Linked DNA regions of Homo sapiens. The protein of the gene in region 1 interacts with the protein of each later gene in a biochemical or structural test. Each region holds a gene or a part of one and is shown on either strand. Other genes may lie near its edges.

What was found.
Region 2: the proteins of FRMPD3 (region 1) and KCNJ9 interact in a test that uses a peptide from one of them, tested with the Homo sapiens proteins (one large-scale study listed by IntAct).
Region 3: the proteins of FRMPD3 (region 1) and ACVR2A interact in a test that uses a peptide from one of them, tested with the Homo sapiens proteins (one large-scale study listed by IntAct).
Region 4: the proteins of FRMPD3 (region 1) and ABCC6 interact in a test that uses a peptide from one of them, tested with the Homo sapiens proteins (one large-scale study listed by IntAct).
Region 5: the proteins of FRMPD3 (region 1) and TANC1 interact in a test that uses a peptide from one of them, tested with the Homo sapiens proteins (one large-scale study listed by IntAct).
Region 6: the proteins of FRMPD3 (region 1) and MYOZ2 interact in a test that uses a peptide from one of them, tested with the Homo sapiens proteins (one large-scale study listed by IntAct).
Region 7: the proteins of FRMPD3 (region 1) and ARHGAP6 interact in a test that uses a peptide from one of them, tested with the Homo sapiens proteins (one large-scale study listed by IntAct).

The regions. Positions count from the first base shown.
Region 1 is NC_000023.11:107,557,652-107,561,151, reverse strand, and holds part of FRMPD3 (FERM and PDZ domain-containing protein 3), read right to left. Parts: intron 896-3,500; coding exon 759-895; intron 426-758; coding exon 299-425; intron 1-298.
Region 2 is NC_000001.11:160,084,538-160,087,800, reverse strand, and holds part of KCNJ9 (G protein-activated inward rectifier potassium channel 3), read right to left. Parts: coding exon 2,921-3,263; intron 316-2,920; coding exon 1-315. UniProt on the Homo sapiens protein: Inward rectifier potassium channels are characterized by a greater tendency to allow potassium to flow into the cell rather than out of it.
Region 3 is NC_000002.12:147,914,529-147,918,028, reverse strand, and holds part of ACVR2A (activin receptor type-2A isoform 1 precursor), read right to left. Parts: intron 2,839-3,500; coding exon 2,695-2,838; intron 747-2,694; coding exon 603-746; intron 1-602. UniProt on the Homo sapiens protein: On ligand binding, forms a receptor complex consisting of two type II and two type I transmembrane serine/threonine kinases.
Region 4 is NC_000016.10:16,160,995-16,164,494, reverse strand, and holds part of ABCC6 (ATP-binding cassette sub-family C member 6), read left to right. Parts: intron 1-1,302; coding exon 1,303-1,502; intron 1,503-2,930; coding exon 2,931-3,057; exon of another isoform or gene 3,058-3,223; intron 3,224-3,500.
Region 5 is NC_000002.12:158,975,140-158,978,639, reverse strand, and holds part of TANC1 (protein TANC1), read right to left. Parts: intron 1-3,500. UniProt on the Homo sapiens protein: May be a scaffold component in the postsynaptic density.
Region 6 is NC_000004.12:119,134,453-119,138,631, reverse strand, and holds the start of MYOZ2 (myozenin-2), read right to left. Parts: upstream 2,801-4,179; 5' UTR 2,650-2,800; intron 2,121-2,649; 5' UTR 2,107-2,120; coding exon 2,031-2,106; intron 1-2,030.
Region 7 is NC_000023.11:11,659,421-11,662,920, forward strand, and holds part of ARHGAP6 (rho GTPase-activating protein 6), read right to left. Parts: intron 1-3,500.

The DNA.
Region 1 (3,500 bases):
TCGGCACTGACTAATTGGTGAAAAGGACCTGAGAATTATCTCCTGCATCTTGGCCCCTTTGCTTTGAGGACCCTGAGCTCTCTCAGTGATGTGTCACTCAGCTGTCTCTTTGGGATGCTCAGGCTTGGGGAAGACTCCTCTCCACAACTGCCCCACACCTGGCCAAGCCGTATGTGCACCTGAGTCAAAAGCAGTGGTGAGGATCCCTAGAGGACCAGACTCTGCTGGGAAACCACCCAGGATCTCCCTGTGGCCAGTAGTGCCTGGAGCACCATGCCCAGTGGTCTACTCTGGATACCTTGGTGCCGCAGGAAGGATGTGTTTGGTGAGCCTTCAGTTGCTGAGAGAGAGATTTCCGGAGGTTCTTCTCTTTGATGACCTGCAGGAGGGAGGGGGGAAGAAAGGGTTCCAGGCCCCACTCCTTCCTAAAAGCAGAAGAAAAGTAAGAGATTAGTGAGAGAGGCAAAGTGGGACAGAGAGAAGATGGTAAGACAGAAATTGACTGAATCTGAGAGGTAGAGATGGAGGAATAGAGACTGGGAGAAAGAAAAAGGGACAGGGATAGGAAAATAACATTAGCCACAGCTCCCTAGTAGAAGCTGTAGCTCTAGGGCTTCATAGTCTAGATATGAGGGACTCCAATTCTCACTCCCATCCCATGTCCTACATTTCTGAAAAGCATAGCATAGCTCAACCAGTGTACCTTTTCCCTACGCAACTATTCGCCCCCCATCCCAACGGGCCGCAGCACAACTCACTCCACATTCTTGAGCGAGATCTTCTGACTAGGTCGAGTGGCTGAGACAGTGATATAGATGTGGAGCGCAGCAAGGCCCAAAAGCATCTCTGGCTTGGGATCCATTCCAAAGCGTTCTCGAATAACATCATTCCGACTCTGTGAGAGAGGGCAGTCCAAACCTATCAGCTGAAGGAGACATTCCTTCCCCACCCCCTGATCTACTCCCTTACATCCCAGACAATACTCATAGTATCAGTAAGGCATGCTAGATCAAGGGACAGAGGAAGGAGCTCCCCTTGGAGAAGAGACAACAGAGGAGGCTCAGGTCTCATAGACACTGTTCACTTTATTCAGCAGATACTAGATAGCCTTCTCAGTGACAGGGGCACACAATGGCAAGGTACAAGCAGACAGTCCAGTTCACTGCAAAAGTGAGACATGGCACCACTCCCTTTCTTTCCTCCTTTTATAAGAGACTTTCCTACTTTTTTTCATGGGGGTTATACTCACCCCCAAGCCATACAAGGCTCCTTTACTAGCTCAGATGGAAACAAGGGGAGAAAGATACTGGGAGGGACTCTCCACAGGGCCCTGGCCCAGAAGCCCAGGGTGAGAGCTGAATTGCAGGGATGGGGGAGGCATTCTTCTTCTTGGTGTCTGAAGGACAAAAATGTTGATGAGTCAATCTTCCCTATGCTATCCTAGAGGAGGTCTCCAGGAACTACTGGCCAAGGGTATGACAACCCCCAAACCCTGAGGGTCACAGCCCCAGCTATCAATGAGTCAGCCTTGGTTAGACCAGTTTCCCATTTTGTTAAAGTGGAACCAGTATGGACTAAGGGACTAGGAAGCCACAGTGATATCACTATAATATAGGAGAGAGTGGAAAAGGAATACATCATCAATGATCATCTATGTAGAAAATTCAGTGGATTCTATTACAAAAAACTACTACAACTACAGTTTTCCCTTGGTATCCATGGAGGATTTCTTCCAGGACCCCCATGGATACTGAAATTTGTGGATGCTTAAGTCCTTTATATAAAATGCTGTGGTATTTGCATGTAACCTATGCAAATCCTCCTGTATACCTCTATCACCTCTAGATTACTTATAATGCCTAATACAATTAAAATGCTATATAAGGCCAGGTGCAATGGCTCATGCCTGTAATCACAGCACTTTGGGAGGCGGAGACTGGTGGATTACCTGAGATCAGGAGTTCAAGACCAGCCTGGACAACATGGTGAAACCCCGTCTCTACTAAAAATACAAAAATTAGCTGGGCATGGTGGCGGGCGCCTGTAATCCCAGCTACTTGAGAGGCTGAGGCAGGAGAATCACTTGAACTCAGGAGGTGGAGGTTCCAATGAGCCGAGAGCGAAACTCCATCTCAAAAAAAAAAAAAAATTGCTATAGTGCTATGTAGGCCAGATGCTGTGGCTCATGCCTAAAGTCACAGCACTTTGGGAGGTTGAGGCAGGTGAATCACTTGAGGTCAGGAGTTTGAGACCAGCCTGGCCAACATGGTGAAACCCTGTCTCTATTAAGAAATACAAAAATTAGCTGGGCGTGGTGGTGCATGTCTATAGTCCCAGCTACTTGGGAAGCTGAGGCAGGAGAATTGTTTGAACCTGGGAGGTGGAGGTTGCAGTGAGCCGAGATCATGGCACTGCACTCTAGCCTGGGTGACAGAGCGAGACTCTGTCTCAAACTAAACTAAAATAAAAATGCTATGCAAATAGTTATTATATTATATTTTTAAATTTTGTATTTTTTATTATTGCACTGTTATTTTTTATTGTTTTTGAATATTTTCAAAATCCACAAATATGGAACCTGTAGATATGAAGGGCCAAATGTAGTGAGTTTACCAAGGTTTCAGGATATAAGATCAATACACAAAAATCAATTGTATTTCTATTCTTTTAAAAATAAATCTTTTTGTATAGAGATGGGGGTCTCACTATGTTGCCCAGGCTGGTCTTGAACTCCTGAGCTCAAGTGATCTTCCTGCTTCAGTCTCCCAAAGTGCTGCAATTACAGACGTGAGCCAACATGCCCAACCCCAACTCTATTTGTATATGCTAGCAAGAAATAATTGAAAATTGGAATTAAAATCAAAATCATTTACAATAGCATCAAAAAATATGAAATAATTAGGGACAAATCTGACAAAACATATGAAAGACCTATATACTGAAAACTACAAAATACTGCTGAGGAAAATTATAGAAGGTATAATTAAATGTAGAAATACTGTGTTCAGGGATTGGAAGGCTCAATATTGTTAGGATGTCAATTGTCCCCAAATTGATCTATAGTTTCAACACAATCCTAATCCAAATCACAGCAGGTTTTGGTAGAAATTATCATGGTGATTCTAAAATTCACATGAAAATGCAAAGGACCTATAATAGCCAAACCAACTTTGAAAAAGAACAAAGTTGGAGAACAAATACTTCCTGATTTCAAGAATTATTATAAAGCTCCAGTAATCAAGAGTGTGATGTTGACATAACGACAGACAAGTAGACCAACAGATCAGAATAGAGAGTACAGGAATAGATCTATATATATATATATATATATATATATATATATATATATATATAGACAACAGATTTTTAACAAAAGTACAAAGGCAATTCAGTGGAGGAAGGATACTCTTCTCAACAAAAGGTGCTATAACAATTGGATATCCATATGCAAAAAAAAACACACACACACACACACACACACACACACGAAACTTTGATGG
Region 2 (3,263 bases), on another chromosome or scaffold:
TCTCTGGGGGTGGCAGGCAGCCATTCTGCTCCTTGTCAGCCCCAGCTTCCCCACCCGCCCCCTCCCCCGCCCCCTCCTCCTCCACCTTCTCATCCAGCCGGCTGGGGATGGACCAGTAGAGATGGGCATCAAGGCGGGCGGCAGCCTCTGCCAGCTCTCGAGCACTGCACGAAGGTGTGGGCACCTCAAAAGTCTCGTGAAAGCTGGCATAGTCCACTTCGTAGAAGCCGTCCTCCAGAGTCAGCACTGACGTGAAGCGGTGGCCCCACAGCACCTCGTCTACCAGGTAGGAGCTCCGAGCTTGGCATGTCATTCCTGGGAGGAGGGGCACCGGTCAGGGGGAATCTCAGCTCCAGGCTTCCCTCTCCTCTTCTCATTCCACAACCCTACTCCCAGCACCCTCCCTTCTATTCCTTCCTAAGGGCTCCCACCTCCCTTTGGTCCAGTCCATTTCCCCCCCTCCCTAGCTCCTGTTCTTACCCAGCTCCCTCGTGTCTTCTCCATTTGCCCCAACTCCTCTTAATGTCCAGCTCTTTTTTCCCCTCCTGTCATTTGGTGATGCCAACCAAAAAAAGCTTAACCTTGAAACTAACCTTAGGGATCCTCTAGTCCAACTTCTCACTCCATACAGGGCTCCCCAAAGGAGCATTTCTAACAATGGGCATCTAGCTTATACTTGATTACCTCCCAGGATTGATAGCTCACCACTTCATAAAGGGCCCACTCCTTTGTATGATAGCTCTAATAGTTGGGTTGTTCTTTATACAGAGCTAAAACCTGTACCCTGGGATTTCCAACTCTTGGCTTCATTCCCCTCCCACTTCACAGTCCTCTGAGTATCTGAAAACAGGAGTCTCAGATTCCCTCATGTTTTCTCTCTTGACTTAACATCCCTGGCTTCCTCCACGATTCCTCATTTGACCTGGTTTTCCAGAACTCTACTTTTTTGATTACAAGCCAGAATGGCCAAGGAGGGCCCTTTAAGCATTTTGAGTATAGTAAATTTTCCAACTGTGGCCTGCTCCGTGCATAAGAGAGCGCGCACCATCTCTCTCTTCTGGCCATGATGCTTTCACTAATAGGGCCCAGGATAACATTACATAATCATTTTGGAGGCTGCATCACATTGCTACGACATCAAGACTGTAGCCAACTAAAACTCCCAGTTCTTTTTTCACCAGTGCTCTTCCATGCTGTGCTTACATAAGTGATTTTTTTAAAGCCTAAATGTAGAATTTTATATTTATTCATTTTAAATGTCATCTTGCTGGGTTTTGGCTCATTATTCTTGCTTTTCAAAAGCGTTTTGAATCCTGACTGTCTCACCCAAAATATTACCATCCTTTCCAGCTTTATCTCTCTAGAAAAACAGACAGATTCCTATCCTCATCTCCTCTGTCCTGGTCCTCCCTGCCCGGGGCTTGTGTCCTATCTTCCTGTTGGGCTGGTGCACCCCTCAGGGCAGGTCATTCTCCTTTCTGCCACAGGGTCTTGCCCCCAACCCATATCCATCTCGGAACAAGGGGAAACAGAAGAGTGAACATTAGCTAACCGGAGAGTGGCTGTCAACTCGGAAAGCCTGGCGCTGAGACATTGGTATTCCTCGGTGAAGTTGGAATAGAAAGTATCCAGTGGGAGAGAAGAGAAAGAGGCATAAGGGACACTGGGGAGAGAAGGGCTTCGAGGAGGAGAGGGCAGGGCTGGGGGTACAAAGAGAAAAGAGGGCCGGGCAGCAACTTCCCTGGAGGGTGAGGGGCCTGCCTGAGATACTGGCAGAAAAGGAGTGACAGCTGGAGAGAGAGGAAAGGGAACGGGGTGAGTGGGGGAAGAGGAAAGAGTCGGGGTGAAGCAGGAATGGGAACAGTGATGCGGAGCTGGGGTTGGGGTGTGAAGCGGAGTCTCAGCCTAAAGGGGCCAGGGAAAGGATCTGAAGGCACCAGCTTGTCAGCGAAGCCGGCAGGGAGCATCAGCAGCTCTGGCGTCAGAGGAGGGACTGCGGCGCCCCCTAGTGGGCCTTTGGTCCTCCACCCGCAGTTTCCTCATCCTCATCTATCCTCTAGATCTCAAGTCCTAAGTGACCTCCTTTGCGACTCCTGTAACACTGGTCTTTTTTCACCTGCTCCCAAAGCCTTCACTGTGTAGGTCTGGGTTGGACTTATTGACATCACAGATGAGTTGCCAGTTCCTTTTGGAAAAGAGCTAGAAAAGGTAACATCATCTATATCCCTTGTCAGTGGAAATGGATGAATTGGGAAACCGAGGTACAAGTGAGACTAGGTATTAAACTCCCCTCAAGATCCGGCCTAGAAATAACTCAGGCAATGGAAAACCTTCACCGTCAAATTCCAGGGGCCTGAACCTGACTGCAGTGAGAAAACCCCTGAACCTAACCCCTCCTTCCAACTCGGGACCACTAAACATTGAAGCCACATTGCCTGTGTCCAATCCAGGCATGGCCACTTATTGGCTTAGGAAAGTGGACAACTTCCTTAATTTCTCATTGGAGCAATCTCATCTCTAAAAAGTGAGCACAATAACAAGAAGTTACCTTCAGAGGGTTCTTGTTAGGATTAAATCGACTCAGAGGTAGAAAGTGCTTTGGAACTGCGCATGACACAGGGTGAATACTGGGCGAGCACTAGCTATTATTACTGTCCCTATTCCAAGTGACACATTCCTCTGGGCCCAGGGCCCCACGCCAGTGCCATTTCGGAGAATTCCTCCAAGCTTTCTCTTGGCCTTCTGCGGCGTTGCTCGGTTCCACTCCCGCCTCCGACCCCTGTCTCACCTCACTGTCTCATCCTCCACCAGCCCCTCCATCCATCCTCCCCAGCTCCCCTGGCCCCTAGTCTCGCCCCTGCCTTCCTCGGTCCCGCCCACCCTCTGCCAACCCCGCTCCCCTCCCCAGGCCTGCTCGCACCCGTGGCTTCCACCATGCCCTCGAGGATAACGACGATCTCGAAGTCGTCCCTCTCGAGGGCACGGCGCGACGCCTCCCAGAAGGGGCTGGCGGCGTCGATCTCGTGGCTGATAACCAGCGGCGAGACGAGGAAGAGGCGGTCGTCTCCCGTGTCGAAGCCCACGCTGAGGTCGGTCTGGTGCAGCGGGATGAACTCGCCCTCCAGCGTCTGGCGCGAGCGGATGAGCTTGGCGCGGATGGAGGCCTCCACTATGTGTGAGGAGCGCAAGTCGCCCACGCGGAACATGAGGCAGAGGCGCCCGTCGCGCAGCGACACCACGGCGTGCGAGGAGAAGACGAGCGT
Region 3 (3,500 bases), on another chromosome or scaffold:
GATTATTGTTGTCCTTTAGGTCAAGATAAGAGAAGTAAAAGAACCACTTACATTTCACAATGATGAAACCAATTACCAAAAACATAATTTCCTACTTCATTAATGGTACTTTCACACTGACTCTAAAAGTAGAAAAATTGAGGAAAACTAGCAATTACATTTTGGTGATAATTACCCTGCAAGTTAGTGACAGATCAAAGATCAGATAAATTTCCTGACTCTGGTTTTGTCACAAGCAAGACTGATTAAAACTTAAAAAAATGGTTCACGTAATCAAAATGAATTGTAAATGGTAAATGAAAATTACTAAGCATTACCTACACTAAAATAAATGTTTGTAAGAGTAATTACAGCACAAGAAATAAGGAACAAAAGGGTGGTTTATATGAGTAGAGTTTTAGGTTAAAAAGTTGCCATCTTTGCTCTTTTATTAAAATAAACTACCTTTTAAAACATTTTTATTCAAGAATGATTTTTATTTTCAGGTTAAATATTAATCAACTATAAGATGTCTCGAAAAATAACTCTGAGGGATTTATAGCCAGCATTAGGTAGGCAGGCCAACTCAGACTTTACTAAAGTAAAACGTTAAGTAGTTTTACCTTTTCATGAAATGCTGTGATCAGCCAAAGATCCACATCAACACTGGTGCCTCGTTTTTCTGCACCAATGAACTGTAATATGTTCTCATGCTTCATTCCAGGCAAACTGTAGACTTCGTATTCATTTTGCCATGACTGTTTGTCCTAGAGTCAAAAAGAAAGAATAGTAAGAACACAAGGAATACAGGTTTAATAAACCATGCATAAGAGATTACTCAAATAAGTTCCAAAGTAAAACAAAACAAAACAAAAAAGTCTTAAAAAATTTTTTGTTCTGTTTTGTAATAAGAAAAAGCTCTGACAATAGGTTAACAAATTTATACTAAATGCCTGCCCTTTTCATTCCCTCAAAACGTACTTTTCTGTGTTTCTAGTTTACAAACACAGAAGGTGATCGGAAATGCTGCATTCTGTGTCTTACAATGGCAACACGTAAGTTACTGCAAGTATTACACTGTAATTTCATCATGGTGTGAAGTTACTTGTGGTACTATTCAGAATAATCTCCTTGAAAGATGAAATTCCGGCAGAATGACTTCCTCTAAATAGAAAACTTCTTCTTTTCAAAAACTAACATAATATCAAACATCCTTCAAAAAATGTTTAGCATACCCTACAAGGTCTATGAGAAAGCAAGGGGCAAAGATATGCAATGCAATAATTTAAGACACCATATATTCACTTGTGCCTGCAAGCAATCCATGTCTACTAAGTATCTACTTATAAAAGATTAGCTTCTTTTCACTACTAAAAGACAATAATAGTAAGAGGCACTATGGCATAATGGTTAGAAACCCTTAGAAACTCTCTGCATCCAAACTGTCCAAACTTAAATCCTGGCTCTCCCACTAACCTCTGGCAAGTTACATAATCCTTCAGTGTCCTCATTAAGTAGAAAAGGCATTGTAGTGTCTGTCTTATAGAATTGTTGTATTATATGTTGCATTTTATGTACATGTGGGTAATATACGTACACATATTAGTGAGTACTCATATATGTAAAACACCCCTACCTGACCCAATAAAAGCATACAATAAAATGTTAGCTACTGTTGTTGCTGTTGTCGGGCTTGTTAATATCATCCAAATGCCTTTCTCTGAGCTTTATGCTTCCTTACACATGGAAATAATTTCTTCCCTTATCTTATTTATGAATCTTGGCACAACAGAATACACTTTCTCTCTGAAAACTAAACTGTGGTTTACAGCTACCAAAAAAAAATGTAATACAGTTCATAAACTCTATGTAAACAGTTTATAGACTGAACAGAGGAGGTAAGATTGAACAGAGGAGGTAAAAAGGTTAAAATCTAGGTATATTAAGACAAAGAAACTGCTTATATGATAACTTTGGAAAAAGAAACATCCACTCTCTAAGTATGGTGGTAGAGCCTGCAACACCAAATCCAGCCAAGACGTCAGTACCAAGGGTATCATGAGCTGCCAGGGTATATAAGCAAGAGATGGGGAAGACAGAATCATCATAAATCTATACCACCAACGGAACAAAACAAAACACAAGAATAGCTCAGAGGTACATTAGATCAGAGTTTTATGAGAAGTCCAGCCAACCTTAAAAACAATTCAACAGTAAACCAATTATTTGAAGTCTCGATTGCCTCTGAAAATGCATCAAACAAAAACTGAAATAATTAAACACTCAAAGTAGAATGAAAGTAAGTCAAGTCTGGTGATATACCTCTAAATACCAATTCTAAAACAAAGTATACTGCTCTTTTGTTTTTTTGTTTGCTTTCTCTGACAACGTAGGGGGATATTAAAATTTAACCACTCAATTAGACTTGTTTATTGGAATCTTTATCTTTATTTAACATTTCTATTAGAATTTTCACTGGCAAAAGATCTACTATGCATTCATTTAATTCCACCACTCCAGACAAACATAATGATTGTTATATTAACAATTCCATTTCTCAGATGCAAAGGCAGGCATTAAAAGAGCTAACTGCTTTCCCCAGTATCACAAAGAACCACCTTGGTACATATGGCTTCTGTTTTGAGACTATTTCTGAGTTATGATGACCTAGCCATAAAACATGTATGTAAGATGACAAAACTGCAATAAACATACCTGTATTGGAAATATTTTGACAGCCACATATTCGTTAAGCAACTGGGCTTTCCAGACACAACCAAATCTTCCCCTTGCTTTCACTTCTAATAACTGCAGTGGTTTCAAACCTAGTAATGGAGAAGGTGGGGGTGGTCCTGGGTCCTACAGATAAATAATAATAATACTATAAATAAGCAGAACATGACACACACCAACTCTGAAAATGAGAAAAAAAGTGAGTATACTGAAAAGTCAACTGACAGAAACAGTAAACACATATGAATGACATTAACTTCAATGTTGCCATAATTAGATTACTAATTATCTATAGTGATCACAAGGCAGGCAACCTGAATTCAGAGTTTCATAATAATGTTCAGCATTATTGCTATATATGTACCACAGGAGAGAAGATCTAAAATCTTTCTGATCAGTCTCAGTAATATTCCCCACTAAGATTTTCTGTGAACTACGAAATACTCCTAACAATATTTCATTTGTTTCATCCAGTGTGTACTTCGAGGAGGATGATTTGAAAAGTGCCAGAAACAGCAAATTATGACTATATATCAGCAAAAACCTCTCCTGAAGATCTATTACTTTCTCCAGTGACTGTTTAAATTTTTTCTTCATTAATCTCAGAGATACCGGCAGTCATTCTTAAACACATTGCAGATAGGTATATCAAATACAAAGCACATACAGGAAATATGTAAGTAAATATTTCTTTAACCAAACTGGTTCATTCTAATTTTAAACATATTAACAATTCATCCCTTTGATCTGAGATAAAAAATCATTTGTGTTCTGGAACTGACTGACTG
Region 4 (3,500 bases), on another chromosome or scaffold:
ACTCGTCACAGTAACTGAATGGATAGTAGATTCTGATACACTAGGCTGCATCATGTGACCACCTCTCTGATCAGGTCCCATGATTGACAGCACCCCAACCCAGCCCTTTCCCACAGGAAACCAGAAGTAGAAAACATGGTAGTCAGATAAAAACCATGGCTAGGGCTAGGCATGGTGGCTCACACATCTAATCACAGCACTTTGGGAGGCTGAGGTGGGCAGATCACTTGAGGTCAGGAGTTCGAGACCAGCCTGGTCAACATGGTGAAACTCCGTCTACTAAAAATACAAAAATTTAGCCAGTGTGGTGGCGCATGCTTGTAATCCCAGCTTCTTGGGAGGATGAGGCGGGAGGATTGCTTGAGCCCGGGAGGCAGAGGTTGCAGCGAGCTGAGATTGCACCACTGCACTCCAGCCTGGGTGACAGAGAGAGACTCCATCTCAAAAAACAAACAACAAAACCCATGGCTACCACTGTCCCCGACAATTGTCCTAGGTCTTCTCTAAGTTCACTTGACTCCGAGGATGGGCTGTTTCTGTCTCAAGCTTTAGAGTCAAGCAAAGATGGGTTTAAATCCAGGCTCTATCACTTACTGTGGCACTCAGGACAGCTGCTGAATCCCCCGAGCCTTGGATGTTCTCACCACTAACTGATGAATGACGCGAATGCTCACTCTGCAATGAATGAGACACTGTGTGAAAAGCCTGGCACATACAGTTGGGTGTTCAGCAAATTCAGTTCCTCCCTGCCTGCCTGTCTGCCAGCTGCACCCAACCTGCAGCTGCAAACCAAATAACGAATATTTTCTGCACATCACCTGGCATGTAACCCTTGGGTTACATGAGTGAAACTGACTTGGCCAACTGCCTTCATTGCCCCTTACAGTTTTGTTCTCCCACTGACCAGCCGTAAATGAAGTAGTCGGCCTCAGTGCTGGGAAGTGAGACACTTAAACTAAATTGGTGGTTTCTCAACCCTGGCTGTCCCTTAGAATCATCTGGAAGGCTATTTAAACAGCACCAAAGTCAAGGTGACATTTCCAGAGATTCCGATTCAGTCATTCTGGGGTGGGGCATTAGAGGTTTTTGAAGCTCCCCAGGTGATTTTCAAAAAAACCATAGAACTCTGATTCTGCAAGGAAATGAGAACCCAGAGAGGGCAAGCAACTAGCCCAAGGTCACACAGTAAGCTGTTAACAGATCCTGGTCTGGAATCCTGTACTTGGGGCTCTCTGTGCTTCTGGAAACTACCTCTCTATGTCTGTGGCTTCTCCTCTTCCCTCTCCCATCCATCCTTCTCAGAGCCTGTATGTGGTTAGCTCATGCCAGCTGAGACGCTTGGAGTCAGCCAGCTACTCGTCTGTCTGCTCCCACATGGCTGAGACGTTCCAGGGCAGCACAGTGGTCCGGGCATTCCGAACCCAGGCCCCCTTTGTGGCTCAGAACAATGCTCGCGTAGATGAAAGCCAGAGGATCAGTTTCCCGCGACTGGTGGCTGACAGGTAGGAAGAGCCAGGGCAGAGAAGACCTTGCAATTCATCCATATCCTTAGAGGGTGAGACCTGAGGTCATATTGTATGGTAGAGAGGTCACCCAGAGAGTCAGGGACATAGTTGAGGCTAGATCCCACAGGCAGTCTATCAGTTCTCACCGTGGGCAGATGGAACATGACCGAGAGATTCTCAACAGCAGGTGGGCGGGGGGTACAGGAAGAAGCTTCTGTTGCCAGGCAACTGGATCAACCTCTTTTGCCTTGGTGATAAAGCAGCCATATAAGCATCCTCAGCCATCTTTAGGTACTAAGCAAGAACAAGAACACAAGCTTTAAGCACAAATAGACACAGGTTCAAATCCCAGCTCTGCCACTTACCAGCTGGTTGATTTCAGGCAAGTTACATAACCTCTCTGAGCCTCATTTGTCAAACTGGGATCGTGCTCATGGAGTGGATATGAGGATTAAATACAGACACTCATAGGTAAGACCTGTAACATGCTTACTGCATGCCTGGCACTGTTCTGAGCAATCTATGTAGATTAATTTATTTAATTCTGCTAACAGCTTCACCAGGAAGAAACTGTTCTATAGATGATAAATCCTAGGCACAGTGAGGTTTGGAAACTTGTCCAGGGTCTCACAGCTAATACTGGCAGAGCCAGGATTTGAATCCAAGCAGTCTGGTACCAGAGTGTGGAGAGGGTCAAGTACACACTAGGTGCTCAATACATGTGAAGTCCTTTTTCCTTTCATCTCAGGTCCCCAGCCAGCTGGGGCTGTGTATTAGTCCATCTTCACACTGCTAAAAAGAACTACCTGAGACTGAGTAATTTATAAAGAAAGGAAGGTTTAATTGACTCAGTTCCACGTGGCTGGGGAGGCCTCAGGAAACTTACAATCATGGTGGAAAGGGAAGCAAGGCACGTCTTACATGGCAGCAGGAGAGGGAGAGCATGAGGTGGGAACTGCCGCATCCTTTTACGCCATATGATCTTGTGAGAACTCACTATCTCGAGAACAATATGGGGAAAACTGCCCCCATGATCCAGTCACCTCCCACCAGATCCCTCCCTCCACATGTGGGGATTACAATTTGAGATGAGATTTGGGTGGGGACACAGAGCCAAACCATGGAGGCCATGGTTCAGGCCAGGGGAATGGCAGGTGGACATGGCTTGGCAAATTCCAGGGACAGAAAAGCAGCCACACAGGGATGCTCTTCAGAACACCGAGTGTACCCCAGACCCTAAAGTGGGCTTAGTTGAGACAGGACGGTGTCATCTTCCTCTACTCCCTGAGCCTGGGTTGCATGTGGAGGCCATTGCTGGGACCCCTGTGTGTACAAAGCTGGTGTGATGACCAGTCCTTGTGCCCAGAGAAGCATCTCCCTGCAGATGAGAGTAACCACTCACCCTGCTGTCGCTTCCCTTTGCAGGTGGCTTGCGGCCAATGTGGAGCTCCTGGGGAATGGCCTGGTGTTTGCAGCTGCCACGTGTGCTGTGCTGAGCAAAGCCCACCTCAGTGCTGGCCTCGTGGGCTTCTCTGTCTCTGCTGCCCTCCAGGTACTCCCCACATCCCCAAACTGGGCTTGAGGGACAGACAGAGGCAGAGACTGTCGGACCCCTGCTAGTGGGACCTTTGAAGACCCTGTGTCCAAACCAACATGGTGTGTGGAGTCCCTCCACCAAGGAGGGACACGCAGCTCTACAAGAGCCAGACTCAGCTAAGGTGAACTTGCAACCTTGGGCAAGAGTCTTTCCTTGTGGAGTGTCAGTGTGCTCCTTGGAAAGACAGGCCAGAAATCCCACTACTTCTGATGTTATAAAGACTAGTTGAGACAAAGCATATCCTGTGGAGGACATTTCTAGTGCATTGTTAACTTTTGTTTTGTTTTGAAGACAGAGTCTCTCTCTTTTACTCAGGCTGGAGTGCAGTGGTGCAATCTCGGCTCACTGAGAACTCTGCCTCCTGGGTTCAAGCGATTCTTATGCCTCAGCCTCCCAAG
Region 5 (3,500 bases), on another chromosome or scaffold:
CCCATGATTTTGCTTTGTGGTAGTTGCAGACAGCTCACTATCTGCAGGCATTTAGATCTTCATACATCTCATCCACCAGGCCTTTCGTGTTACTCCACAAGGACTCTCCCTTGAACTCACTGCATCTGCTAGGATTGTCTTTAATGTTTTTGCACTATCATCCTATGGAACCTCCCATTTCACCTGTGTCAGTGTTCCCATGTGAAAGAACATGGCACTGTAAATAACATGCATGAGGGCACACAAACCAGCCAGGAAATAAAAATTTTCCAGGTCTGAATCCTGGGTCCTGCTGTCTTGGTTCTGTGAGCTCCCTGCCCTCAATCTCCTTTCATGTACATGGAGCTCCCTGCCTTCCTAAGGCTGCCAGAAGGCTGGAGGCGAGACCCACCCCAGAGTAACAAGTCCAGAGTGATGTTTAACAACTGTGGATTCTCTGTCTCCCTTTCTCCCAAAGGAGAAACAGATTGTTTTCTTTTTAAATGAGAAAGGTAAGACAGGACCCCCTACCATCAAAAAGCCTACAACCCATCTGCAAAGCCAATAGGCGAACAACTTAATAATAAAAAGCAAACAGAGAAAGACATTATAATGAATGTACAATGTACTAGGGAGACTAAAAGGAAAGAAAAACTGAAATGTGGAAGCGGGAGTAAATCAGAAAAAATGTTCATAAGAAAGCAATATTTATTTAAGCTAGCCCTTGAAAGTCAAAATTTCAGTGGTGGTGGTAGGGTGAGGGAAGAGGCAAAATTGAAACAAAGTATCAGGGACGGGCAGGAGTTCAGTGGTATTAGCAGAGACAAGGAGAGGACAGCTGGGCCTGCAAACAAGTTAGGGTCCAGATCACAGAGATTCTTGAAAGCTAAGAATAAAACAGGGACAGCTACTACTCTTATCTGTCCTTATATCAGGTATGATGCTTTCAGCTGCAAGTAACAAAAATACCTAACTCTAAGTGACTTAAATTGTGGTATCAAAGCTTTTTTGATCACGCAGGACTATCAGTTAAAAAAAAAAAAAAAAATTAGCCAGGCACGGTGGCTCATGCCTGTAATCCCAGCACTTTGGGAGGCCGAGGCGGGCAGATCACTTGAGCTCAGGAGTTTGAGACCAGCCTGGCCAACATGGTGAAACCCCATGTCTATGAAAAATACAAAAATTAGCCAGGTGTGGTGGTGCACACCTGTAATCCCAGCTATTCAGGAGGCTGAGGCAGGACAATCACTCGAACCCAGGAGGCAGAGGCTATGGTGAGCTGAGACAGCACCACTGCACTCCAACCTGGGCAACAGAGAAAGTTTCCATCTCAAAAAAAAAATTTTTTTTTAATTAAGCCAGGTGTGATGGTGCACACCTGTAGTCCCAGATACTTGGGAGTCTGAGGGGACAGGATCACTTGAGCCCAGGAGTTGGAGGCTGCAGTGAACTATCATCACACCACTGTACTCCAGCTTGGGCAACAGAGCAAGACTCCCTCTAAAAAAATAAAAAGTAAAAAATTTTAAAAACGTATTGAAGCTCAGGAATTTCAGGGGAAAAAATTTATAACATATATACTAACATATTATAAATTGTATTAATTTATGTGTAATTAAAACTAGTTATGAATGGTATGTATACACACACATGAATGTAGTATATACATTATACAACATTTAAAACTTTTAAAGGATGGGAGTCAAACAGTATTTTTAAGTTCATTTTTATTAATAATACAAATCCAAACATAATTTTGTTGTTGTTGTTGTTGTTTTTCAAGACGGAGTCTCATTCTGCCGCCGAGGCTAGAGTTCAGTGGCACAATCTTGGCTCACGGCAACCTCCACCTCCCAGGTTCAAGTGATTCTCCTGCCTCAGCCTCTCGAGTAGCTGAGATTACAGGTGTACACTACCACACCTGGCTAATTTTTGTATTTTTAGTAGAGACGGGGTTTCACCATGTTGGCCAGGCTGGTCTTAAACTCCTGACCTCAGGTGATCTGCCCGCCTTGGCCTCCCAAAGTGCTGGGATTACAGGCATGAGTCACCGCGCTCAGCCCATACATAATTTTTGAGCCACCTTCTTGTCAAATTTGTTTTAAAAGTCATGTTCTAAACTCATAAGAACATTTTCTTGTTCCTTTATACTTATATCATTATCATTACACTTTCTTTGCAAGAATCTTTTTAAACCACTCGCCCATTTTCTGGGGGTCAGTTTAGTTAAAACCAGATAATCTAGCCATAAATGTATTTAGATGGATAGAGTTCACCAAAGGCAAGAATAAGAATGAGGGTACCACTGTCAATTCCACCAGGTTGTAAAAGGCCCAGTCTTCCCTCAGGCAACCTCATATAATGTAAGTTGATAAAAGACTACCAGATATACCAACCAGTGTCAACTCATACATTAAATATTTTAAAAGCTTAATTTTTTCTAACATTCTTGAATATTTTCTTCCCTCCCATATTGGATGATCTAGCACACTCCACTCTGGGGACCACTGATCTTAAACAATAATGAGGCTGGGCACAGTGGCTCACACCTGTAATCCCAGCACTTTGGGAGGCCAAGGTGGGAGGATCCCTTGAGCCCAGGAGTTCGGGACCAGCCTGGGCAACATGGGGAAACCCCATCTCTACAAAAAATACAAAAATTAGCCAGGTGTGGTGGTGCACACCTGTAGTCCCAGCTATTTGGGAGGCTGAGGTGGGAGGATCACTTGAGCCCAGGAGGCAGAGGCTACAGTGAGCCATGATCATGCCACTGCAGTCCAGCCTGGGTGATAGAGTGAGACCCTAGCTTAAAAAAAAAAAAAAAAAAGATAAGAAAGAAACAATAACGAAAATGTTTTTTCTCACAGAAGTTCTGAGTCACAGTGGTTCTAGGGCTGGCTAATCAGCAGCTAAAATAAGTCATTGTGGGCTGGGGATGGTGGTTCACTCTGTAATCCAGCACTTTGGGAAACTGAGGTGGAAGGATTGCTTGAGGCCAGGAGTTCGAGACGAGCCTGGGCAACATGGTGAGACCCTGTCTCTACCCGCCCGCCTCCTACACCCCTGACACCGACAAAAAAAAAAAAAGTAATTGTGGTCTTAGGCCACCTTTAGTCTGCACTCGGTGCTACTTGTTCTCTTGTGCTGACAACCTTATGCTTCAAATATGCCAGGACCTAACAGGCGTCACATACATATTCATTAATGAGTCACTGGCAAAAGGTATGGCATTACTAAAATTGATGGCTTAATCAAAATTCACTCCCTGGGGCAGGGGACGCATCCACCTTACCCTTAAGTACATGGCCAGTGGAAAACTAATCAAAAGCAGGATTATAGTAGTAAGCACAGTCACCCCCCTCCACACCCAACCCTCCATATCTCAGGTTCCATGGCCACAGATTCAACAAACCTAGGTTAGAAAATATTCAAAAAATATTCTAGTAACTGACCACTGGAAAAAAGATAACAATACAATAAACACAATAAAATACAATAAATACAATAAAAATATAAATTTT
Region 6 (4,179 bases), on another chromosome or scaffold:
GGCAAAATTTGATTTATTTAGTCTTACAATTAAGATCAAAGCAGTTGCATGTTTTATCTTAAATTATCCAGATTTTTACTCCTGTAAAATGTTTGAAAGTTTGGAGGATCATTCCCAAAAAAGTTTCTCTGAAGTCCATTTTATTATGCATCCTGAGAAAAAATTATACTCCCCTAGCTCCAGATCTCTAAACATCATGCTATACACAAATAGTAAAGTTCCATATAAAATGTCAGAGGAAATAAGAGAAGAAAAATATTTGAGCGGTTTCATAAAGTACTGAAGTTATTTCATCTGGGATGAGCTTGGAAAGAGTCTGATTATCCCCATGTTATCTGAAATACTTGACATTCCAACAAAGACAGAGCATGTGACTCCTCTTAAGGGAGCTGGTACTCATCCAGTGACATGGGAGGGAGGGCTTCAGCTGACTTTACGTGGCTAGGATTTACTGGTGGTGAGATAGTGGTTTTGAGGGTTTCCCCCACTTTGATATATAATTGTGTGTTTTCTCCCACATATTTTTTATAAAAACAATAGTTATGTTTATAAAAAAAAGGAAAAAAAACTTCTTACCCTTATAGATCTATGTCAGAGCTAACAGTAGATTCCAACACATGATTTAGGCTAGAATACATTAAATGGACTGACTGTTTTATGATTAGGATGTCATTAGAAAATAATAACATGAAAGGTCTATTTTAAGGTAAACAATTTTGTCACAAACTCCAGTGATCATCTGATTTTTGCCACATTGATCAGAAAAGCTAAAAAATAATTTCAAGTAAACTACTTGAATCTGGAAACACAAAGATGCATGAAATTTTAAATAAGGCATGAATTTTGGAACTTTGGATTGGTATGAATTCAGTTCTGGTATCTGACTCAGAATTATTCTCATTTTATTCCAAGCTAATTTGACATTACAGTAAAACATGAGAACCAAGTTGAATCCAGTACAGTGGTTCTGTATTGCAGAAAATAGAAAACAACAACGGACCTCTTAGTTATGATTACATTGCGTGGGGAGCATCTAAAAGTCTTTGATTCTGTTCCTCTTGCTTTATGGAAGGTGTAATATGAAAACATTATGCTCAATACTCTTCCCGGGTCTCAAGCTTCTAGGTCTCAATATTGTAGTGGTGAAAGGCTGCATTCCTTGTCAATACAGGGGAAATAAGGAGGCATTCTGAAAATGCCACTAATATATCTGGAATGGCTCAAATCAGCTCCTAAGAGGACCTGAATATTTTTCTTAACATTTAAAACTGATGCTATACGTTGCTTATAAACAAAGTTGAATTTCCTTTATAAGAATCAAAATGCAAGTTATAAAGCATTGCTTTCTCAAGTTAGTTGCTAGAATTTAAAGAAAAGGAGAGAGTGAAATATTACCTTGCACGTAATATATATTAAAATTTTTTTGAGTCATATGCTTTGAGACTACAATAACTTTATATTTTCTCAGAAGTTACAAATAAAAGTAGACTTTGCACACAAAATATGTTAGTAAATCAATTAACAAATATGAAGGGTTAAATAAATAAGCAATAGAAATGGAGTTAAATAATAAGCAATAAATATGAATTCCAACTTAATAGCTTGATAAAAAAGATGATAGAACTTATTTTGAGTGATTTATATAATGTAAGGTAAAAGAAATCAAGCTAAACCATGTGGGATGGACAATAAAGACAAGATTGTATGAGACTTGTCCAGAAAAAAAAAAGAATCGAGAGTGATCTTAACTTATAATGTGGAAGGCAAGCCAAGCAGAATGTACATCAGCTGTCAGATTGCTTCATGCCTTTTACAGCAGTTGTTCCTCTGAAAATAGCTTCCAAATGAGAAAGGATGACTACAAAAGGATTAGTTACCATAGGCTTTTCTACACCCCCTAGAGCTCCAGGTTTGTTATGACAGAACAGCAAGAATCTAAAGGAAGTAAACTATGGAATATTAAACAACGTCAGGATGGAGCCACATTCATGCTGTGCTATATTAATGCTACGAAGGATTTTTATTGATACCATTTCCATGGACTTCCTTCATGATGGCTGTTGCTTGCTGTTTTCTCTGCTTCATCATAGTATTATGTGATAGCATGGTTTTTTTGTTCCCTGTTAAAAACAAAGGGACATTATTGAGGCAATGTGAAGAACTCATTTGGAGTGTCTTATAATCACTGTTTTGAAAGACAACATCTTTGTTCTTTATTAAAAAGTTATTATCGCTTGCTACTGAAAGACTTCAATACGCATTCCTTATCTGGTGACAGAGTATGTTATTCATTGACAGGCAATGTCACAGTGAACAGAGACCCAGTCTGGACATTAATACAATGATCATCAGGCAGTGAGAAACAATGAAATTGCTGGTCTCCTTTCCCCTCCCTCTCTTTTCTCCACAGTATTTTAGTCTGTCATTGTCTCCTCACTGGCCTTCATTTGTACCAGCATCACACTCCATCAATTCCAGCAAACTGTAAGAATGAAGAAGACACTAGACTAAACCAGAATTCTTTGGTGGTAGCATTTTAATATTGGCAACAGCTGCCCTTTAAAGCAGAGAATGCCCATTTATGAGTCACAACTCTGAATATCCTTGGACAACTGACTAATGAAACATTTTAGGAAACAACATACTCACCTTGCTGTTAGATTGTGCTTTTTCAGCGGGGATGAATCCCAGTTTGTGGAGGAAGACTCTGGAGATGGACTATGGATGGCACTTGGGCCTGATGGTTTTTATCCTTGAACCTGGGACAGCATGGTCCCTACTCTGACTCAAACTGGGGACTGAGCTTTTCTGAAGAGACTGGCATTCAGCTGACATCAACTGGCTATATATAGCACCAAATACTTTAGCTACTCATATCTTCCTGGCGAAAGGGAGGAACAGGGAAAGATTAGGCTCTCTCCATTGTGTTTCTAGTTTGTGAGATGGTTAAATGAAACGTTCATTGGACATGCAGAAAGTTTTTAGTGAGCACTTTCTGTTGAACAGATAGTAGCCAAAAGGGATTTTAAACACTTTTAAACATCTAGCTCTTATGTTACATGTTAATTGAGGTGGCAAGAGACACATGCATGAATCAGAACAGAATGATAGATTTTTCATAATTAAAATGAACAATATAGGCAGTAATATCTATGTAGACTCAAGAAGAAAGGAAGTAATGTGGGGTGGATCAATAGAGCCAGTTCTTAAGCTGTAGTGAGAACTCATGCTAGGTTGAGAAAAGTATGTAGTATTTGAATAGTGAACTCAGGAAGCATTTTGAAATGAACCATTAGAGGATAAGCCATGAAGCTGGGTAAAAGCTGAGACTCATAACTGGGTCATGCTTTTTGAAGGGCCTACAGAGACCAGTCCCTGCAAAGTTGACCAGTCTTTACAATGTCTAGGGTCAAGGATTTTCATTTGCAGGCCTGACAAGATTTGAAAGGTTTGCCTGTCAAAAGGTTTGGCCTCCTTGATGGTCCCTGGACACAAAAACGTGCTCTCATCTCTGGGCTTTTCCTTTTACTGTTTCCCCCTTTCCTTTTACTATTTCCCCCTTTCCCTGGTTGAAATGGTGTCCTCAACAGATAATCATTATGTTAATTTTGGTTTCCAAAATGAAAATAGATACTGTATTCCTTTTACTATTTCCCCCTTCCATACTTTCCCTCTACTCACATGGCACAGTCATGCATTCAGGACTCTGCTCAGATAACAATCCCTCATAAAATCCTTCCCTTATCACCTTGTCTAAAATATCACACTGTGCCACTCTCTAGTCCCTTACTCTGCTTCATTTTCTTTATATTTTTCTATTAGTTAAGATAAAAGTCAAATGGGAGTGACAGAAACCCCCCCAAAACAGAACTGTAAAAAGATGGAAGATGTTTCTCTCACAGGTAAGCTTAGTCTAGAAGTAAGTAATTGAGGGTTTGCATGACTGACATAATTATCAAGGGCTCAGTTACCCTCTAACTTTTTGCTCCACTATCCCTAAAATGCAGACCCCTTGGGCCTAATTGGCTGCCCCAGCTCCAGTCAGCATGCATATATTTCAACCAGCAGGAAAAAGAAAAAAAAATGAGAAGGGAACACTGTCTTCTTTTCAGAACATGTCTGATATTTTGTTCATACTTCTGTTTACATCCCATTGGGCAGAACTTAGCCATATAGCCG
Region 7 (3,500 bases), about 96 Mb from region 1:
TGTGGGGCTGTGCACTGCAGGGTATTTAAAAGAAGCATCCCTGGCCTCCCACTAGATGCCGGTAGGAACTCCCCTGTGGTAGACAGAATAATATACCACCAAAAATGCCCACGCCCCAATCCCTAAAACATGTGAATACCTCATAGCAAAGGGAACTTAAGGTTTCAGGTGGAATTAAAAGTCACTAATCAGCTGACATTAAAATAATGAGATTATCCTGGATTATCCAGGTGAGCCCAATGTAATCACAAGAGTCCCGAAAAGAGCGAGAGAGAGAAATGACCACACAAGAAGAGTGGATGAGATGCAACTTGGCTGGCTTTGAAAATGAAGGAAGGGGGCCACTGGAAAAGGAACCACAACAGATCCTAGAGCCTTCAGAAGGAACACAGTCAGGCCAACACCTTGAAGTTAGCCCAGTGAAACCTGTTGGGATTTCTGAGGTCCAGAACTGTAAGACAATAAATTTGTGTTGCTTGAAGCCACTAAGTTTGTGGTCATTACAGCAGTGATAGGAAATTAATACACCACCACTTCCAGTTGTGTCTTCAGACACTGCCAAATGTCCCCTGGGGACAAAGTCACCTCCAGGTTAAGAATCACTGCTCTACACAAGTCCAAACTCCTGAGATGAGCACAGTGAGACGCTTCGTAATTACCACTATCCTACCTGTTGAACACTATTATCCTGCACACAGCAAGATACATCCTCTTCTCCAGGCACCCCAAACTTCACTTGGGCAACACTCAATATGCCTTCACTCTCTGCAGTTGTGATGCCCAGGGGCTCCTTGGAGAGTAATGTGCTTTGACCAGTCTCTCATTTTTGTTCATACCCATAATTATCCCCCCAGTAGAGGCTGGGTGTGGTGGCTCATGCCTGTAATCCTAGCACTTTGGGAGGGTGAGGCAGGCAGATGGCTTGAGGCCAGGAGTTCAAGACCAGCCTGGCCAACATAGTGAAACCCAGTCTCTACTGGTGCATGCCTGTAGTCGCAGCTACTGGGGAGGCTGAGGCAGGAGAATCGCTTGAACATGGGAGGTTGCATTGAGCTGAGATCGTGCCACCGCACTCTAGCCTGGGCAACAGGGTGAGACTCTCTCTCTCTCAAAAAAAAAAAAAAAAAAAAAAAAAAAAAAAAAAAAAAAAAAAAAAAACCCAACAGGTCTGATTTCTGACTTTATTCGGTCAGGCTTTTATTACATGAAAAGCCATGTGGTTGTACGTGTATCAAACTGCAGGTGCCCTAACCTGCTCCTCCAAACAAATTATTGCGCTTAGGGCCCTCTAAGTCTTCTTTTTTGGGAGCTGTAGAATCACCAACACCTCTGCGCCTTTGCCTGTCCACTCTTTTCTGCCTCATGAAGGCATCACTTTCCTTCTTCTCCTTAGAAATGGCAGTCATCTTTGAAGATCAAGTTTAAATGTTCTCTGGACAGTGAAGCCTTTCAAGGCCCCCCAAAGCACAGTGAATCATCACCCGCCCCTCTCTGTTCCCTCATTCTGCTGATCTTCTGTATTCCCCCTATCAGTTAACTCACCTGTCCCCTCATTAGACTATGAGCTCTTTAGCCTCTCTGCATTCCTAGTACCTACAGAAATGCGTATGCTCAAGAAATGCTTGTGCCATGAATGAAGAAAAGTATAGACGCCAGTGATATATAGAAATCATTTTAATTATGGGTTGCAAAAGTTGGCAAACTCCAGGTTAGCTATGGACATAATCCCAGCTCTGATCCACAAGAATTAGGAGAAGCTCAGGATTGAAATGAGACTTTATTCCTTTGCCTGTGATCAGAGTCAGGGGCAGAGCTTGGCTGCTAAGAACACAAGTTGAGAAACACGTTCCAACTGTGTTACCACGTACCATTTACCCTTTGTCTCCTCCATGTTTCTACTCAATAGATGATCTACCCAGCATGTCCAGGAATCAGATTTTGTTAAAGCAATCCTGAAACACGTAGTGAGGAAATGCTAACAAGATCGTAGCTGACTTTGCCTAACACTTCCCAGGTTTAGGCCATAAAATGGTCATTTGTAAGCTTTGAACGAGCACAAGTAACAAAGCTGCAGGCATTTGTGAGAGTCTTGGGAGCAGGGGCTGTTGTATGGACAATTTACGTTAAAAGCAGACAAGATTCTGAAAGAACAAAGTGGGAAATGGATGAGATCCATCAATGGCTAAACCTGAAGGTGAATTCTTAGGATTTCATATGGATTCAATGGAAGAGAAATAGAAAATTTGAACAGACTGTAAGGGGTACATGACTCCAGAGGGATCCTCGTGGTTTTGGAATCAAACGAAGGCGCCAACAAAGTTTAGGCCAGCTGTAAACACTTCTGTGGGCACTCTCTTGATGGCCAGCATGGGGTACTATGGGCAACCTCACTAACGCAGCAGTTCTCAGTTAGGGCGATTTTGATCCCCAGAGGATATTCAGCAGTGTCTAGAGACATTGTTTGTTGTCACACTGGTCTGGAGGAGTGCTACTCGCATCTAGTGGGAAGAGGCCAGGGGTGCTGCTAAATACCCCGCAATACCCAGGACAGCTCTGTAGCAAAGAATCATTCAGCTTCAAATGTCAATAGTGCCAAGGCTGAGAAACCCTGAGCCAGAGCAACCAGAAAAGTTCAAGAACCAAATCTATATGAACCAGATATTCCCTCCAGGGCCTCTAAGCAGCCTTGCAAGATGCTCATTGGCTGACATTTTGATGTCATTAGTAAAGACTCTCCTTTAAGGACCAAAGACTCAGCTTGCCTGCAAGTGAAAAGGACAGGCAGTGCCCAATAGGATACATTTTCTTGGTTTTTCAGAGGGTTCCAGGGCGTTAAACCTTTGAAAGGTAATCCAGGCCATTAAATTAGAGATCCAAGGGTTATGTTAGGATATCTTGGCCTTTATTAAACAAAACCAGGGTTGGAGCTACATGCTAGAGTTCTATCCAATCACTCCATGCCTGCCTCAAGCATAAAGGAATTTCCAACACACACACACACACATACACACATATTCTATGAGAAAATTCTGGCTTTTTGCTAGATGGCTACATCCTTAGTTTTAACCACCATGAAAAGGTAAAAATCATGGTAGATGAGTTTTGTGCAGACTGCCCACTGTATGGAATAGAAGCCACCCAGTATCACTGCAGTTCAGATCCTTGTCCATTAATTATGAGATGCTAATGGATAAGAAGATAATTTGCAACAAGTGAAATCATCTACAGCCACATGCCTTTTGGTCATAACAGTAATGAGCAGCATCTGTATACTATATTCCAAGTATGTATATGGTTGCTAAGAAAAGCAGAAATGTTCTTAATGATGCAATTAGTTTTAAGCACGAATGTTAGCTAGCTAATCCAAAATGCTGGCTTGCTTTTGTATTTCTCTTTCTCTCAACTTGTACAGATTAATCTGATAATGTGTGCTTCTGAAATACAATGAGAATCCAGCCCCTCCTAAAGACCAAGAGAAATTCAACATTTCAATTTTTGAT